Regions from separate parts of the Homo sapiens genome. Here region 1 is linked to region 2. Evidence: fine-mapped expression QTL. Tissue or cell type: thyroid. Region 2 holds a variant in brackets; the other region holds the start of a gene. All regions are shown on one strand. Distances are between the middles of the regions.

The links. PIP is the estimated chance that this variant, and not a neighbour inherited with it, causes the effect.
Region 1: SLC6A6 starts here. The variant in region 2 is fine-mapped to the expression of SLC6A6 in thyroid (GTEx, PIP 0.98).

The regions. Positions count from the first base shown.
Region 1 is chr3:14,397,784-14,405,883 of GRCh38, reverse strand. SLC6A6 (solute carrier family 6 member 6) reads right to left here and starts at 3,278. Exons shown (of 15, transcript NM_003043.6): 1 at 3,037-3,278. It overlaps LOC105376959 (a long non-coding RNA gene), which reads left to right and starts at 3,477. Exons shown (of 8, transcript XR_007095825.1): 1 at 3,477-5,223; 2 at 6,647-6,740; 3 at 7,375-7,555. RefSeq lists enhancers at 2,095-2,174, 2,245-2,304, 3,625-3,794, 3,805-3,854 and a silencer at 2,955-3,484.
Region 2 is chr3:14,206,934-14,215,035 of GRCh38, reverse strand. No RefSeq gene overlaps it. Among named protein-coding and RNA genes, the nearest start is that of LSM3, 32 kb to the right of the region's middle. RefSeq lists enhancers at 4,441-4,941, 4,942-5,442. The variant T/C (reference allele first, on the strand shown) is at 4,271.

The DNA.
Region 1 (8,100 bases), 190 kb before region 2:
AGTTACCACATGCTTCTACCTCTGGGACAGGAGCTCCTAGAAAGCCAACACTCTACCTTGAACCCAGTGCCAGCCCAGAGCTGACCTTAACCAAGGTCTATTAATCAACTAAATGAAGCACATTAAAAAAGCGCTCTCATTCTCACTTGAAGGCTTCCTTAGGCATTTCCAGATCCACAGCTCCTGCCCAGAACCCATAAATTCAAACGAACGCTCTGGCCAAGTTGGCAAACACAGGAAAATGAGATGCAGCCCCAAAGAATCTGACTCTTGCTCATGACCTTCTGCAGAAGTGGGGAATCAGCATGTACCTGCCAGGGTGGCCCTGGGATTTCAGGCCAACCCCAATTCCCAGGCAGACCCCCTCTGGCTGCAGCTAAGCTGCATTCTGGGGAGCCCTTATAATTTACTTCTCAGCTTTTTCTATATACGGGAATGTGTTCAATGACTCACAAGTTTCTTATCATTCAGGACTTTTGGAAAGACTTTCAGAGAAGTACACCTCCCAAATCCTTTGACAAACTGACAGGCGGACAAGTTCAGGTTAGAAAACAGAGTCCCCAGAGCCCGGACTGCCTTGTGGAGGGCTGACCCCTGCAGCAGAATGGGTAGCAGGGCTCAGGGGAAGGCACAAGGAAGGGAGAATGAGTAACTAGGGACAGAAGCAAGGTGCAAATGGGTCCCATAGGCTCACTTTCCTGCCCTAAGGACTGGGACACCTTTGTTCCTCATTTTCCCCAGGCCCCGGTTCAATTTCAACTCCCGAGGATATCAGTGACCAAAGCCCCATGGGGCCAAAACTCACAGCTGAGCTAGGGAAAACCTTTTGAAACTTAATTTTGTCCAGTCAAGGCAAAGTCCCTTAGGTGGCTCTCAGTTTGTCCATCTATAAAATGGGTACTGCTCACCAGGCCTCCAGACTCTGAAAAGCAGATGTGGTCCAATCACCACAGGTTGAGGTGACGGGAAGGAGGCAGGGGAGGATGATTGCAGCTGAGCCATGGGTTAGTACAAGGGTGTCCCCAAAGGACAAAGCCTCCAGAATGCACCTTGGCCCTTGCCATACACCACAGTGACCCAGGACCTCGTGACACCCTCTAATCAGCAGCTCTACAGCCGAGCCCGGCTTTACAGCTTACTACAAGCTTATTCAGCCTCATCTCCCTCAATCCCCTCAAGGACGTAGTGAGGCCGGCACTGGTGTCCTTGCTGCCCAGGCAGCCAAGCCGAGGCTCAAAGAAACCAAGGGAATCAACCAAGGTCACCCACCCATTAAAACAAAGCATAGGACTTAAATCAGTTCCCTGGGGACAAGCTCCTACCTCTGGTCCCTGGTTTACTCTATAACCAGTCTGCCCCACCCATTTTACAGGTAAGGAAACTGAGGCAGAAAAAGGGTTGCCCAAGGTCAACTGGGGGCTGAGCCAGGCCTAACACCTCCCACCATTCTACCAGTCCCACCCTGTTGGGGGTTCTTAGCCGTGCTAGGCCCCCTTTGGATCCTCTCCAACACCATCTTGATGAAATTCCTCCCCCACCCCACCTCCTCATGCCCACCCCACAATCCCTGGGTGACTCCCTGGTCGAGAGGGAGGCAGGTGGTTGCTAAGCACTCACCCGCTCTCTCTCTCATAAAAATAAACTCCTTCTGGCTAGGAGACTCTGGACAAGATCCCCTCCCTTCTAGCCAACAAAAAATTAAAAAGAAATTTTAAAAAGATCTCCTCAGTGACATTTACTTGAACGTCAGCTGTGCCAAAGCGGGGGCCAATTTAGTGAAGTCCAAATGGAGCCATGCGCCAGTAAACCTCAGCCCGAAGACCCTCCATTCAAGTGTCTGGGCAATTACTGAGCTGATTTATTTCCCCAGACAGGAAACGGGGGCCCAGGCTGCCTCCCAAGCTTTTGGGGCTGGTCCTGGGGATGCCGGGATCTGGCAGAGGCCCAACAGTGACCAAAATAGCCAGGCCGGTGGCCCTACCCGGCACACACCTCCCTGCCTGGGAGAGCTGCCCACAGGTCTCCTCTCCAGTCCAGGCTGAAGTCCAGGCTGAAGCTTTGAGGCTGTAGGAGGAGGTCCCTGGAATTCTCTCTGTGTGGCTTCCCTAGTGGGAGGGGGACGAGAATCTCCTACTCAAAAGAGGAACCCACAGAAGGAAGAGAAATAGTCTGGAGGGGGAAGTGTCCTGCTGGCCCTGCCGGCTGTCCACTACCCCTTGGCTGCCCCTCCGGGCCTTGGTCCCACCACTCAGGACTGCTGGACGCTGGCGCTGCCACCTGCACACCACCTATGGAGTGCATGCACCTATGGAGCCACGCTGCCCTATCACCTCTCCCCACTCAGCGCCGGCCCTGGAGAACCAGCTCTGGCCATTGGACCCTCTAGGCACCAGGGACACCCTCTTGGGTACAGCCGAGGACACACGAGTGCCCACAACCAGGGACCTGGAGACACAACCACACTCAGGGACACGCACGTGCACCTAGCCAGGGCCTGGAAGACGCAGCCCCCCACACACAGATTCATGCAGACACAAACGGGGACACACAAGAGCACACATCCAAAGACAGCACACTCAGGTATCACACACAGAGAGGCACACACACACAGCCCAGCACGCAGAGAATAACAGACATGCACCGGAACACACATGTGCACGCTGCTGGGGACACGGTGAAACAGTCACCCTCAGAAACACAGACACAGGGATACGGAGGCACATGTAGGCATCCTGACGGAGACAGGCACACAGATATGCCACACACACACACACACACACACACACACACACACACACACACACACTCTCCTGCCGCCCGCACCAAGAGCCGGAGCCCTTTTGCCGGGGAAACAATAACAGCCCCGCCAGCGGGACTGAGCAGGCGACTCTCGGTCCCTTCCGCGGTGGTGAAAGGGGCGCCGGATGGGCGCACGCGGAGGGGAGGAGGCCGGGACTGCGGCGACGCGGGGATGGGGAGGGGCTGCAGACGGCGGGCAGCGCCGGCTGCGCGCCCAGCTCCCGGTCCCTCCGGTACCTGGGGTGGCTGCGGCGCCGCCCGCGCTCTGCTCGGCTGTGCCGGGTTCCGCCGGCCGGGGGCTGCCTGCCCGCTCGCTCTCTGACCCGCTGGGTGAACGCTCCGCACTCCCTCTTGGCGCAGCTTGTCCTCTGGGCTTGCGGTCCTCGGGGCTCGGCGTTGGCGGCGGCGCGAAGGAAGCGGTAATTTATAAGCGGCTTCTTCCTGACCTCGCGTGTCTGTTGTCTGAGCAGGCAGCTCTCAGCATCACCCATCCTGCTGGGTGGAAAAATACCAGCTCGGCCGGGCCGGGGGCGGGGCCGGGGCGGGGCCGGGGCTTCCAGCCCCGCCCCAAGTGCGGACACACGCGCGCACACATACACATGCACACACATACACGCAAACACGCACGCGCGCATGGGCTCGGACACACAAAGAACCCGGGCTCGCCGAGCGCGCGCGCACACCCTCATGCCGCGCGGCGAACGTTCGTTGCCAGGTGCGGCAGCCCGCCCTGGGCGCCTCCTGCCTGCGGAAGAAGAGCAGGACAGACCCGACCCGACCCGCCTAGTCCTTTCCTTCACAGCAGCCTCCAAACTCCACCGCTCGCCTCTTCCGCCAGGCTCCTAGGATGAGGCCCAGGGCTCCTGGAGCAGCCAGGTGCAAACCAGACCGGGCTCGCACTCCACTGCGTTGCCCTGGGCGATCGTCCACGTTCTGGGAGACTCGGTATGCCCCGGGAGGGTGGCCTGAGCTTGTGGTGTGAAGCCAGGTACAGAGCTCCAGAATCCTGGCCTTGCCATGGCTGTGTGACCCTGGGCAAGTGACTCAATTTCTCTGCCTCAGTGTCCTCATCTATAAAATGGAAAGGAAAATAGTAGCGCTTGTCTCCTCCGGCTGTTATGAAGATCCAAGGTTAACAGCGTAGAGAACTCGGAACGCACCCGGCATCTAGGAAGTGCCAAGCCAGTGTCAGCTAATGTGACTATTTTTAAATGGAGATGGGGAGTGTGCCATTATTCTTGTCCTTATTTGAATGAACGGGCCCTCAGGGACCATTTTCCACTGCCCCGCCCTGGCAGCATGAGAGGGAAACGCTGTGAGAACCCCGAACCCCAGCCTTCTCCTGTCCCTCTCTCTCTCTCTCTCTCTCTGCACCTGGGAGGCGGGGAGGAGAGAGCCGATCCTTCCACCATTTACACGGAGAATGAAAGAAGAAATACCGGCCAGGCGCGGTGGCTCATGCCTGTAATCCCAGCACTTTGGGAGGCCGAGGGGGCAGATCACCTGAGGTCAGGAGTTCGAGACCAGCCTGGCCAACATGGCGAAACTCCGTCTCTACTAAAAGTACAAAAATTAGCCTGGCGTGGTGCCGGGTGCCTATAATCCCAGCTACTCAGGAGGCTGAGGCAGGAGAATCCCTTGAACCCGGGAGGCGGAGGTTGCAGTGAGCCGAGATCACGCCACTGCACTCCAGCCTGGGTGACAAGAATGAGTCTCAAAAAAACAAAAAAGAAGAAGAAGAAGAAATACCACACAGGTCCGACCAAGAGCTGCCCCCACTCAGGCCAGGATCCCTGCCTGGAAGGGCTCTGCAGCCACTCTCCCTGTACAGCCCCAGGATGCTAAGGAGCATCCCGAAGTGACACTGGCTCTCCCTGGAGGCCCCTGCCATCGGACTCCAACCTGACCTTCCAGTGGGTGCTCCTCATACTGGCTCCAGCCAAGACAGACGAGGACCACTGGGCACATGCCCTTCCTTGCCTTCCTGTCACCCTTCCCACCCTTCTCTGCGGGCCCCGGGTGGCCCCTTCCTCCAGGAAGCACCTGGGGATCAGCAGTGCCTCTAGGGTCCCAGTGGCCCACGTGACATCTGCTTCTGGCCACCTGAGCACTCTCCTTTGAGTTCAGGGTCACTGTACCCTTTTATAGGTGAGCAAACGAAAGCTGAGGAAGAGGAGTGACTGGGTCTCCCACATCCCTCTGCTTCAGCTATGAGGTTCCCTCATGAACTGCAGGAATAGACGTCAAGCAAAAACTCCTCAGACGCCCTGTGCATGTGTGGTCGCACAGGGCACAAAGACTGAAGCAAAGGGGCAGGTCCTAGCGTGGGGAGGGGACTCCAGGATTGAAGTTTGAACCAAAAGGAGGCTTTGACTAAGCCACGAGCAGTGAAGCCGGCAGGAGAGGAAGCAAGTTCTAGCAGAGGTGCCTGCCGTGCGAAGGCCTGAGAGCAAGGTTGTTGGTGGCAGGGCTGAGCTTGAGGGTCTGAGAGAGTGAGCAAGGGCAGTGGCTGTGGGAGGAGGGAAGAGTTGTGTGTTCAGAGCTGCAACTTGGAAAGGCCCATGGGATCCTTTGACCTCCAGGTAGGCCAGCGGAGCCTCATGCAGGTAGTGCCAGCGCAAGACACACGAGTGAACCATCTATCCAGTTACCAGCTCCATGAGGGATGGGATCTGTTCTTTTGCCTCCATCAACTCCTGGAGTCTATCATAGGCCTGACACACAGTAGGTACTCAATAAGTGTTTGCTGCATTTATTTTAACGTACTTTTCTTTTTTTTCTTTTAAAACGGAGTTTCGCTCTTGTTGCCCAGGCTGGAGTCCAATGGCGCAATCTCAGCTCACTGTAACCTCCGCTTCCTGGGTTCAAGTGATTCTCCTGCCTCAGCCCCGCTAGTAGCTGGCATTACAGGCATGCGCCACCACGCCTGGCTAATTTTGTGTTTTTAGTAGAGATGGGGTTTCTCCATGTTGATCAGGCTGGTCTCAAACTCCCAACCTCAGGTGATCTGCCTGCCTCGGCCTCCCAAAGTGCTGAGATTACAGGCGTGAGCCACCGTGCCTGGCTTTAACTTACTTTTCTTTGGCACTTAACTATGTACCCTGCACAGTTAAATGCATTTTAATAAGTTAACCCTTTTCATCCCGACAACACCCCTATGAGATTGGTACAATTATTTCTTCCGTTTTATAGAAGGTAAAACCGAGCCACAGAGAAGTTAAGTAACTTCCCCAAGGTCACTCAGCTGGCAGATAGTAGAGCTGGAATTCAAACCTAGGCCACCTGGCTCCAGAGGTTACAATCTTGAATGAGGGGATTCTGGGTGGGCGATTGCCAGACAAAAAAACCCAGCCCCAAGGAGAGAAAGGAGGAGAAGGAGGCAAGAAGAGCCCCAACCTCAGCCCCAGGGAGAGGTGGCAGATGAGGTGGAAAAGGGATGGTCAGACCGGAGAAGGGGCCAGGAGGAGCCAATGCCAAAGCTAGAGGCATGCACAGGGTGGAGAGAGCTCAGTGCGGGAGGCCACAGACCCTAGCTCCACCTCAGCCCTGTGGCTTCCCAGTTGTGTGACTTGGGCCTGCAGGCCTGCTCTCTGAGCCTCAGTTTCCTCATTGTAATATGAGATAAAATACACCCTGCCTCAATGAGCCATTCTGAGGAGAGGAGAAGTCTCGAACTGGAGGCCTTAAACCGAATCCAGCTCCCAGATGTGCTTCTTTGGCTGTCACTGAGCTTTAATGTGTTTGGAGTTAATTTTTATGAATAAAAGCTTGGAAGATTTCACATTTAAAAAATCTGGCCAGGCTGGGCAACAAAGTAAAATTCCATCTCTATGAAAATTTTTTTTAGAAATTCGCCGGGTATGGTGGTGCATGCCTATGGTCCCAGCTACTCAGGAGGCTGAGGCAGGAGGATCACTTGAGCCCGGGAGGTGAAGGCTGCGGTAAGCTATGACTACACCACTGCACTCCAGCCTAGGTGCGAGAGCAAGACCCTGTCTCCAAACAACAACAACAACAACAAAATCTGAATGCCTGGTTTATCTTGAAATATGGCAAAATGGGGCCACCCAGGCCCATTAACCCCCTGTCTACAATGTCCTGGAGCTGAGGGGCATTAGCCACCCTCTCACATGGGCTCCCCAGGGTGCCACAGCTCCCTCCTAGCTAGTTTGCTCTTTTCTGTCACCTACCGGCCCTTGCAGGGAGCTGAATTTGAGACCCATGATGCACTTTGTGCACCCTGCCCCCTCAAAGATAACTGTGAGTACCAAGGGAAATGGAAAGCTTTGGCAACAAGAAGGGAGCTTCAAGGAAAGCCAGGCCGAGGTTCCCCTCAGAACCATAGACTAGCCTGAAATTCCACTGGGACTAATTCTTCTCATTTCAAGAATGAAAATCGATTGCTGGACAGAGCTCCCGGAGGGCCAATTTTCAGGCTGTAGTCTACAGCCGTCCACGTAGAGGCAGTGAACGAAATTTTTCAAAGCCTACTTTATGATTACTTTCTTTAGCAGCTCTCAACAGTAAAATAAAATTGATCTAGGACTTTGAACAAAACTTCTCGCCCCTTTCTAGGGAAGAGTTTGTCTCGTCTATCAGGCCACCAACAAGAGTTGTTGCAATGCCTGTGGGAGGTGCAGCCCACGCTGGGCCACCTGGCCAGCTCAGGGATCCTGCTGGAGATCGAGGATTGTCTGGTCGGCCTCTTACAACTCTCAGAACATCATCCCTGGGAGCAGCCCTGAAGAGACCAAGGGTCAGTGGCGGGGCTGCTGAGTGGCTGCCTCCCTGACCTGGCCAGCATTTCCTGGGCACACTGCAGTGTGTCCACGTCCCTGGGTGTGTAGGTGGCTGCAGAGCCTTGTCAGAGCATCTGGGCCTTCAGGGATCTGCTTCCTGCCCACTACCCTCCTCTTGCCTGCCTGCAAATCTCAGCTCCATCCCTCATGGGCTGTGTGACCTAGAGTGAATAATGTGACCTCTCTGTGCCTTGGTTTCTTGATTTGTACAGCCTGATTAATCATAACCCCTCTCCTGCAGATTGTTGTGTGGAGTGAGTGGAGATGATTGATGTGAAGCGTTGAGCCAGGTCCCTGGCACACAGTCTAACACTCTGGAAAGCAGGACCCCCACCTACCCCTGCCACCTGTGTGCTCCAGGCTTTCTTGCCTCCAGGCCTTCACCCTTGCTGCTCCCTCCTGCCAAGCACTTTGCCCATTGCCCTTCTGCAACCTGGGTCTCTGCCAAACTTGGAGCCCCAGAAAGGGAGCACGCAGGAAGCGGGGATGCCAAGCAGTCCCA
Region 2 (8,102 bases):
ACTTGGCTTCAGAATCAGCAAAACCTGGTGCAATAAAACCTGGGTCAATCTGCACTTTACTATCCTGCTATCTCTGTTAACAACCATTTGACAGTCCTACCTGGGAGGTGTGGCTGAGAGGAATCGTGAACCTGGAGTTAAGACATATATCCCAGGCCTGGCCTATGGACAACTTCTGGCCGCTTTTTCTCTTTCCTCCGCTGATCATCACTTTCTACATCTGTAAAATTGGGAGGTGGAGAGGTGGGGTCTGATAAGAGTTTTATTTCCCAAAGAATTTTCCATAAATTGAAAAAGAAAGAAAACACAGAAGGCTTCCCCCTCCTGGGCCAGTAATTTTGGGAATACGGTGTAGAACAAAGTTAAACAAAAGTATATTTCCTACAGGACTTCTTGGAAACCTCAGTCTGCCCTTATGCGTTGTGGGTCCTAACAGGGAGGTAGACCACGTAGCACTTCCCACACTTCCGCAACACAGGAAACCTTCCCGGGTACAGTATCCTGTGGCTGTGTGGTGTGAAAAAGACTTTGGGAAAAGTTAGATGCGGTCATCTGTAGGATCCCTTTCAGCTCTGAGAAGTTAAAACTCAAAGTGCATTATTTTGACTTAGGGCTCTGTGAGATGCTGAACTATATGTCCTGAATGATGAACAACCACAAAAATCATGGTCAGTAAAGTTAGATGAAGTTCACTTGTAATTGTAGAATTGTAGTCGCTGTGTGGCATGGATGGTAATGACCCAACAAACAGGCCTTGGGCCTTGCTGGACAACAGGGAGCTATGCAGTAAGCCATCCTCGCAATTCCTTTTTTGGAAATCTGAGGATATACAGATGACCCTTTCCACACCCCCAAAGCCTAGGTTGAATATAAAGTCAGAAACTCATGGCTTAAGGAAGGTGCCTTAGAGACTCTGTGTTGCAAAATGAAAAAGGCTTTGAACTTTCGGAGAAGGACCAGACACAGAAAAACCAAGGTCTGTTGCTGTCCGTGTTGTCTGCAGGAAAGACAAAAAGCAAAATGAGCTAACAAGCATCTTTGTGAATCCTCCTGAGGAAGAAATCAGTTCCACAGCAGCCCTGATTACTAATTATAAAAATGTGCATAATGTCATTGACACTCTACTTGGGGAGTTTTCTTTATTGCTTTATTTTGGTGAGTACAGAAAGTACCCATAGAAGAGAAATTAATGGATTCACTCTTGACTGAAGTCCTCCAAGTCAATTTTCACTCAAAATTGAATTTTCCCATGAGAGTTCCCAGGAAGGAGAGGGGTATAGGGCAAAGAGTGTGGCTTTGGAGTCAGACATTTATTCAACAAATGTGTATCTCAGTGGCCACTACGTGCCAACCACTGAGAATACAGCAGCAAACAGGAGTCAGAAATCCCAGCTGGGTGCAGTGGCTTACGCCAATAATCTCAGCACTTTGGGAGGCTGAGGTGGGAGGATCACTTGAGTCCAGGAGTTCAAGGCCAGCCTGGGCAACATAGTGAGCTCCCATCTCTACAAAAAATTTTAAAAATTAACCAGGTGTGTTGGTTCATACCTGTAGTCCTAGCTACTTGGGAGGTTGAGGCTGAGGCGTGAAGCTTGCTTAAGCCCAGGAGTTTGAGGCTACACTGAGCTGTGGTCGTGCCACTGCACTTTAGCCTGGGCCACAGAGCTAGACCTTGTCTAAAATTTTTTTTTTTAAAAGTCTCTATCCTAATAGAGCTGCCACCCTGGCTCTGTTGCTCATCAGCTGTGTGAGCTTAGACAAGTCACTTGATCTCTCTGAGCCTTAGCTCGTTACAGCATGGTCACAGGATTGTTGGGAAAGCTAAATGTCAGATCTTATTTGTAGCATGTCTGGCCCAGGGCCTGGCACATAACCAGCCTTCTAGAAATGGTAGTGGGAATTCCGACTCTTGTAGCCAGAGGAGGAAAAGGGAGTTTAGATGGTTTCAGAGGGCTTCTCTCCGAAGGCTGAGCCTTTAAGGGAGGTATAGGATGAGCAGGGGCATCTGAGAACAACAGTATACCTCCATGAATAAAGCCTCGCTTTTGCTCTCTGCACCTCACCTGACCCTCCACTCTCTCCCGGGTTCACCAGCATAGACAGGTGCTGGGCTGCTGACCCCTAGGCCCCAGGCCCATCCAGTTGTCTGTGTTTTCACACAGAGCCAGCTTCCGAGTCACAAGGTCAACCCCACCTGCCCTGGCCTCCTGGGTCCCCTCCAAGGTTGCAGACATGCCTCCATCCCAGCCTGGGGCAGGCATCCCTGCCAGGCACACAGAGGCCATCAGGAGGCAGGTGGGACAGATCAGTTCCCACTATACCCAAGAGCAGCTCAGTCATATCCCTGGGAGGCTGAAGATAGGGGCTCTGTGCTTGGCCTGCCACTCTCTTGCCTCCTGCCGTGAGCTGCTTACCTATGCCCTCTGAGTCCAGTTCTCCCTCTGTAGACAAAAGGGGTTTGATCAGACCACCCTTTGGTCAGTCCCCCAGCTTCATCATTCTGCAAGGTCCAACTGCTCCTCACACAAAACGCCTGGCAGAAATTTGGAACCAGTCAAACCTCAGTTTGCTCAGTGTTATCTCCACTGGATGAGCTCAGTTTTTCTGTCTGCAAAAGAGTGGGGTTTATAATCCCCACTTTTAAATCAAGACTATTGACACACTGGAAGGAACATGGGTCTTGAGTCGGATAGGCTTGAGTGTGAATACTGGCTCTGCCATTTGCAAGGCAACTCACTTACTCTCTCTAGTGAAACTGAAGCCTCAGTTTCTTCATCTGCAAAATAGGCCTGTAGTATCTCCCTTGAAGAATTGTCGAGGTAAATGAAGCAAGCTATGCATCACACCTGCACATAGCAGAGGATTAAGGCTGGGGAGCTGTGATTATTGTGGTTGTAATTTACTCTAAAATGAGGGCCTGGCTAAGCTGATACCATCGCAATTTCTACTGCTGTGCTCACCCTCTCTGGGTTTTTGGTGCTGGGGTTCCTCCAGTCTCTCCTCAGTAACAGAGCTTCCTGTGGCTGAAAGCTACATCCAGAGGGATTCCGGGGGCTCCCAGGATTCCTTTCAGGCTACAGAGTCCATGGTCCATGCAACCCTTCCTGTTGAAAGTTATATTCTCAAATACATATGATGTGTCCTCAAACATATAATAGCCTCCCTCCCTGTTCTCCTGGCTCGTGTGCTGTAGCAGACATAAATCCCTTCTGTGTGTCATTCCAGTCTCACATTTTCTCACCCCACAGAGCCCTTTGTCCCTGCGCACTGCTGCACAGCTTGGATTGTCTATTCAGAAGAGGATGTGGCACCAAAAGGGACTAGAATCTCTGAATCTTAAGGTTGGAGGAAAATGAGTGGTACTTAGTTGAACCCCTCTTCTGATTGAACTTTCTCTACCCCACCTTTTGACGAGGGTTCATTCACTCTATTCTTACTTTCAAGGAAGGGGAACTCACTAAAGAGAAAGGTGGGGCATGTCATCACCCACACAGTTGCCAGTTAGCTGACTGGCTTTCTTGGAAAAATGACATTCAACAGCAACAGAAAAGCTTCTATCATGGGCAAGCCATCTGGGAATAATAGCTCCAAAGAACAATACTGTTTTCTTGTCCACCCCCTCCTCAACTCTGCACTTTGTGGTCACAAAAAAATGAAGATATGACATTTTTTTCTCTAGAATAACACAACTTTGTTAATGTGTCTCTTTTATTCACCCACCCATTAAACATTCCCGTAAGGAATCTACTTCATATGCCCACAGAGAATGCATTTCAATTCCCAACATAATGAGCCAGCTTCCAGAAGGAGGAGAAGCATTTAGAGGAACAGATAAATCATACCCTCTGCCAAATACCCTTTTCCACCTTCCAACGGGGAGCTCAGAGCCATCCTAGGATGTGACTCAGTGGGGAACATTGTTTTCATTGTGCAGCTTCAGAAACTGAGGCACAGAGAGGTGAAGGTCACCCAAAAAATGTGAGGCGCGAGCATGCACTAAATCCCAGGAATCTAAGACCTCCCAGCATAGTAATCCAGCCCCTAGGATAAATGTTTGTCTTGCTAGCCAGGGAAATTTACTGTGGCCTTTACAGAAGGCTTCTTCAGGCTCAAGATTATAAACAGGGAAACAGGACCTGGCAATTAGTTGAGTGATTCACTGGCAGAGAAAGCTTTCAAGTAGGGAAAGGATCAGTGAGGTGAAAAAAAAAAAAAAAAAAGAAACATCTTTTAAGAAGTTGTAGCTCCCCACCCCCACTCCTTTACATTG[T/C]TTTAATTCTTCATGCTCAGTGTCTTCATTAAACATTTTTGAAGTGGGTTTTTATTTGGTTACTTTGATTTGCTTCTTCTGTCAAGGTTATTTGATCTCATCTCCAACTTAGATTACTTCTAAGGTTGAACTGAACACAATATTTGCCCAGTGAAACAGACAGCCTTCTTGCTTATGGGAAGTATAAGCTTATGGTCCATGCAACCCTTCTTGTTGAAAGTTATATTCTCAAATACACATGATGTGTCCTCAAACATACAATACCCTCCTTCCCCCTTCTCCAGGCTCGTGTGTTGTAGCAGACATAAATCCTTCCTGTGCGTCATTCCAATCTCACATTTTCTCACCCCACAGAGCCCGTTGTCTCCTCCAAGAGGCCATGAAATAATAAAAAACAGATAAATGAAATAAATAGTAAATGATAAAAAAATTAATAATTTAAAATACAGATAAATAATAAATGACTGAGAGGCCATGGAATCATAAAAAACACAACTGGAAATGGCTGAGATACAGCGTGTTCTGTTTTGCTGCGGTGTTGAGGCCATGGACACAGGTGGGCGTGACAGCTCCGAGGGAGCCACCTGAGGAGTGGCCAACTCAGCAGCTTCTCTCCTTTACGCCCCTTGTTACCAGCAGTGGAGACAGCATGGGCTTCCCAGCTCTGCCATGTCCTTGCTGCATAACTTCAGCAAGTTGGGCAAGCTTTCGGAGTCTCGGTTTTCTCAGCCAGTCCTGCTCACCAGCAGGCTCCGTGGTGGTGGGGCTGTGCCTCTGGTGCTCAGCACTGTCTTCTTAAGCGCCTAGCAGGTAACAGGCATTCGGCACGTTTCTGCTACATGAAGGAACAGAATAAGAGTACTCCTACCGCTGTTGCTGGATCATGGTGAGGATTAAATGAGAAACTGTAAATAAAAGCCTAGAGTGTTTTAGATGTGCATGACACAGTAGCTCTTCCATTGCCAGATGCCTTCCTTCAGTGTCAGCACGGGGAAAGAATCCAGATGTTGCACCAAATCCAGATGAAGCCCCTTGTTCTGCAGATGAGCAAACGGAGCCTCAGATCTGTAGATCTGTTCATTTGTGCATTCATTCATTTCACATAGAGGGGACTATCAAGACAGAAAGAGTCTCCATGCTTATGAAGCTTACCTTCTAGTGGGAGGAGACAGTAAATGAGTAGACAAATATATAAACAAGAATAGTGTCACATACTAACAAAGTGCTATGGTGAGCAAGAACACAGGGGAGTGTAATGGAGGAGGGCTGGGAATGGGGGGGTACACTGGTTGGGGGACTAGGTGTGGCCTCCCTGTAGAGGAGGCATAGGATGTAAAAGTGGACCTGAATGACCAGAGGGAGAGAGTCATACCAAACTCAGGAGCAAGAGTGTTCTAGAACACTGCCTTTTGGGTGTTTGCTCTCATTGGTCTCTTTTGCAGGAAGAGGGGACATGACTTTTATTTTGACATAATTTCAGACGTAGAGAAAAATTCCAAGCATAGTACAAGGAAATCTCGTCTTCTCAATCCACTAATTGTTTACGTTTTGCCTCATTCTCTGTCCTCTCTCTCTAAGTATACAATATACACATCACACACACACACACTTTTTGCAGAACTATTTGAGAGTGCACAGTGCGAACATACTGCCCTTTCACCCTATACTTCAGTGTGTACTTCCTAAGAATAAGAACATTCGCTTATATAACCACAGTCCATATCTAATCTACAATGCATAGTTAAATGGTATCAGTTGCTCCAACAATAACCTTTTTAAATTGCACATATTTTTCCAGGCCAAGGGTCACATATTACACTGAGTCCTCATGTTTCGTTAGTTTTCTTTAGTCTGGAACAGTTCCTTAGCCATGCTTTGTCTTTCTTGACCCTGACATTTTTTTAAAGAGTGCAGGCCAGTTATTCTGTGGGACGTCCTGTCATTTGGGTTTGCTGATATTTCCTGAGGATTACTTTCAGGTGACACCGTTGTGGCAGGAACACCACAGAAGTGATGTTGTGTCCCCCTCAGTGCATCACAGCAGGAGGCACGTGGCGCTGTTTGTCCCTACGTTGGGGACATTAACGTTGGTTGATTGGTTTAGGTGGTCTCCTCCGGGTTTCTCCACTAAAAAATTGCCTTTCCCCCCTTTTTAATGAATGAGTAATTTGTGGGGAGGCACTTTTAGAATGTAAGTGCTCTGATCCTCACTAGTTTTAGCATACTTCATCTTCTACAACTTATTAGTTGCCACTGTACTGTAAGGAAGAGATTTTCCTTCGCCCCATTTACTTTATTTATTTTTATTTTTATTTTTTTGACACAGTATCTTGCTCTGTCATCCAAGTTGGAGGGCAGTGGTGCAATCACAGTACCCTGCAGCCTTGACCTCCTGGACTCAAGGGATCCTCCCACCTCAGCCTCCTGAGTAGCTGGGACTACAAGCACACGACCAAGCCCAGCTAATTTTTTGATTTTTTTGTAGAGACACTATCACACTATGTTGCCCAGGCTGGTCTCAAACTCCTGGGCTCAAGTGATCCTCCAGCTTCAGTCTCCCAAAGTACTGGGATTTCAGGCGTGAGCCGCCATGCCTGGCCCTACCCATTTATTTATATAATCATATATTTATTTATATAACTATGAACTCATGGCTTTTTATTTTATTCACTAGGTTATAATCTACTGCTATCAGACCATCTCAGATTTGATCAATGAGAGCCCTTCAGACTGAGTTCTGTGTCTTTTTACACAGCCCCACCATTCTTCAGGTATTTCCTTGCCTTCCGGCACAATAAGATGTTTTGGGCTCATCTGGTATGTTCCCTGCCCCAGCCCTGGAATCAGCCCTTTCTCCAATAAGCCTGGTTCTTTTGGTGTTAAAAGATATTTAGAATCCAAGATCTGGGGGCTGGGTGGGCTCCTGCCACCAGGTGTGTTACCACTTCCAGGACCTCTCTGGGGACAGAGCTAGAAAGCTTCTTGAACTCTGATGTGCATATGCATGACTAGGAATATTGGTGAAGTGCAGATCCTCATTCATTGGGTCAGATCTGCCCACAGGGGTGCATTGGAGACTCTGCCTGTCTCACAAGCTTCCAGGGCGTGCAGATGATACCGGTCCACAAGGCTCATCTTGAGCACCAAGGATGTAGGACAGTGGTTCTCAAAAGTTGGTGTGCATGGGAGTCACCTGGAGGGCTTGGTAAGATACATATTCCTGGGCTCTACTTCCAAAGTTTCCAATTCAATAACCTTGGGCTAGGACCTGAGAATCTGCATTTCTAACAAGTTCCCAGGTGATGCTGTTCTTGCTGATCTGAGACCGCACCTTGGGAACCACAAGATCTAGGACACTGGTTCCTAAAAGTGACTACACATTGGAATTCTTGAGGAGGTTTTATTTCCGTTTTTGTTTTAAAAATGGATCTTTAAGGCCCCAGAGATAATTAAACTGGTGTAAGATGTGGCCTGGGCATTGAGAGTTTGATGACCTCCATGAGTGGTTCTGTTGCCCAACATGATTTGAAAAGATTGTTCTAGGAAGAGGTAGGAGCAAATGCAAAGGCCTTTAAGAAGAAATGAGCTCGATATTTTCAAGGAATGGCAAGGAGGCCAGTGTGGCTGGACAGGAGTTGAGGCCAGAGAAACCAGGGCGGATTGAATCAGGAGGCGGTGAGATGGGTCAGGATTGCGGTTGTTACTCTGGTGAGACAGGCAGCCACCAGAGGGCTTTACATAGGGTGATGCGATCTGAAGGCCTTCACCAGGGCCTTCATCCAGCAGTTTCAAGGCCAGCTCTCCTCCTGTCAGTCAAGCGCTTTCTACCCAA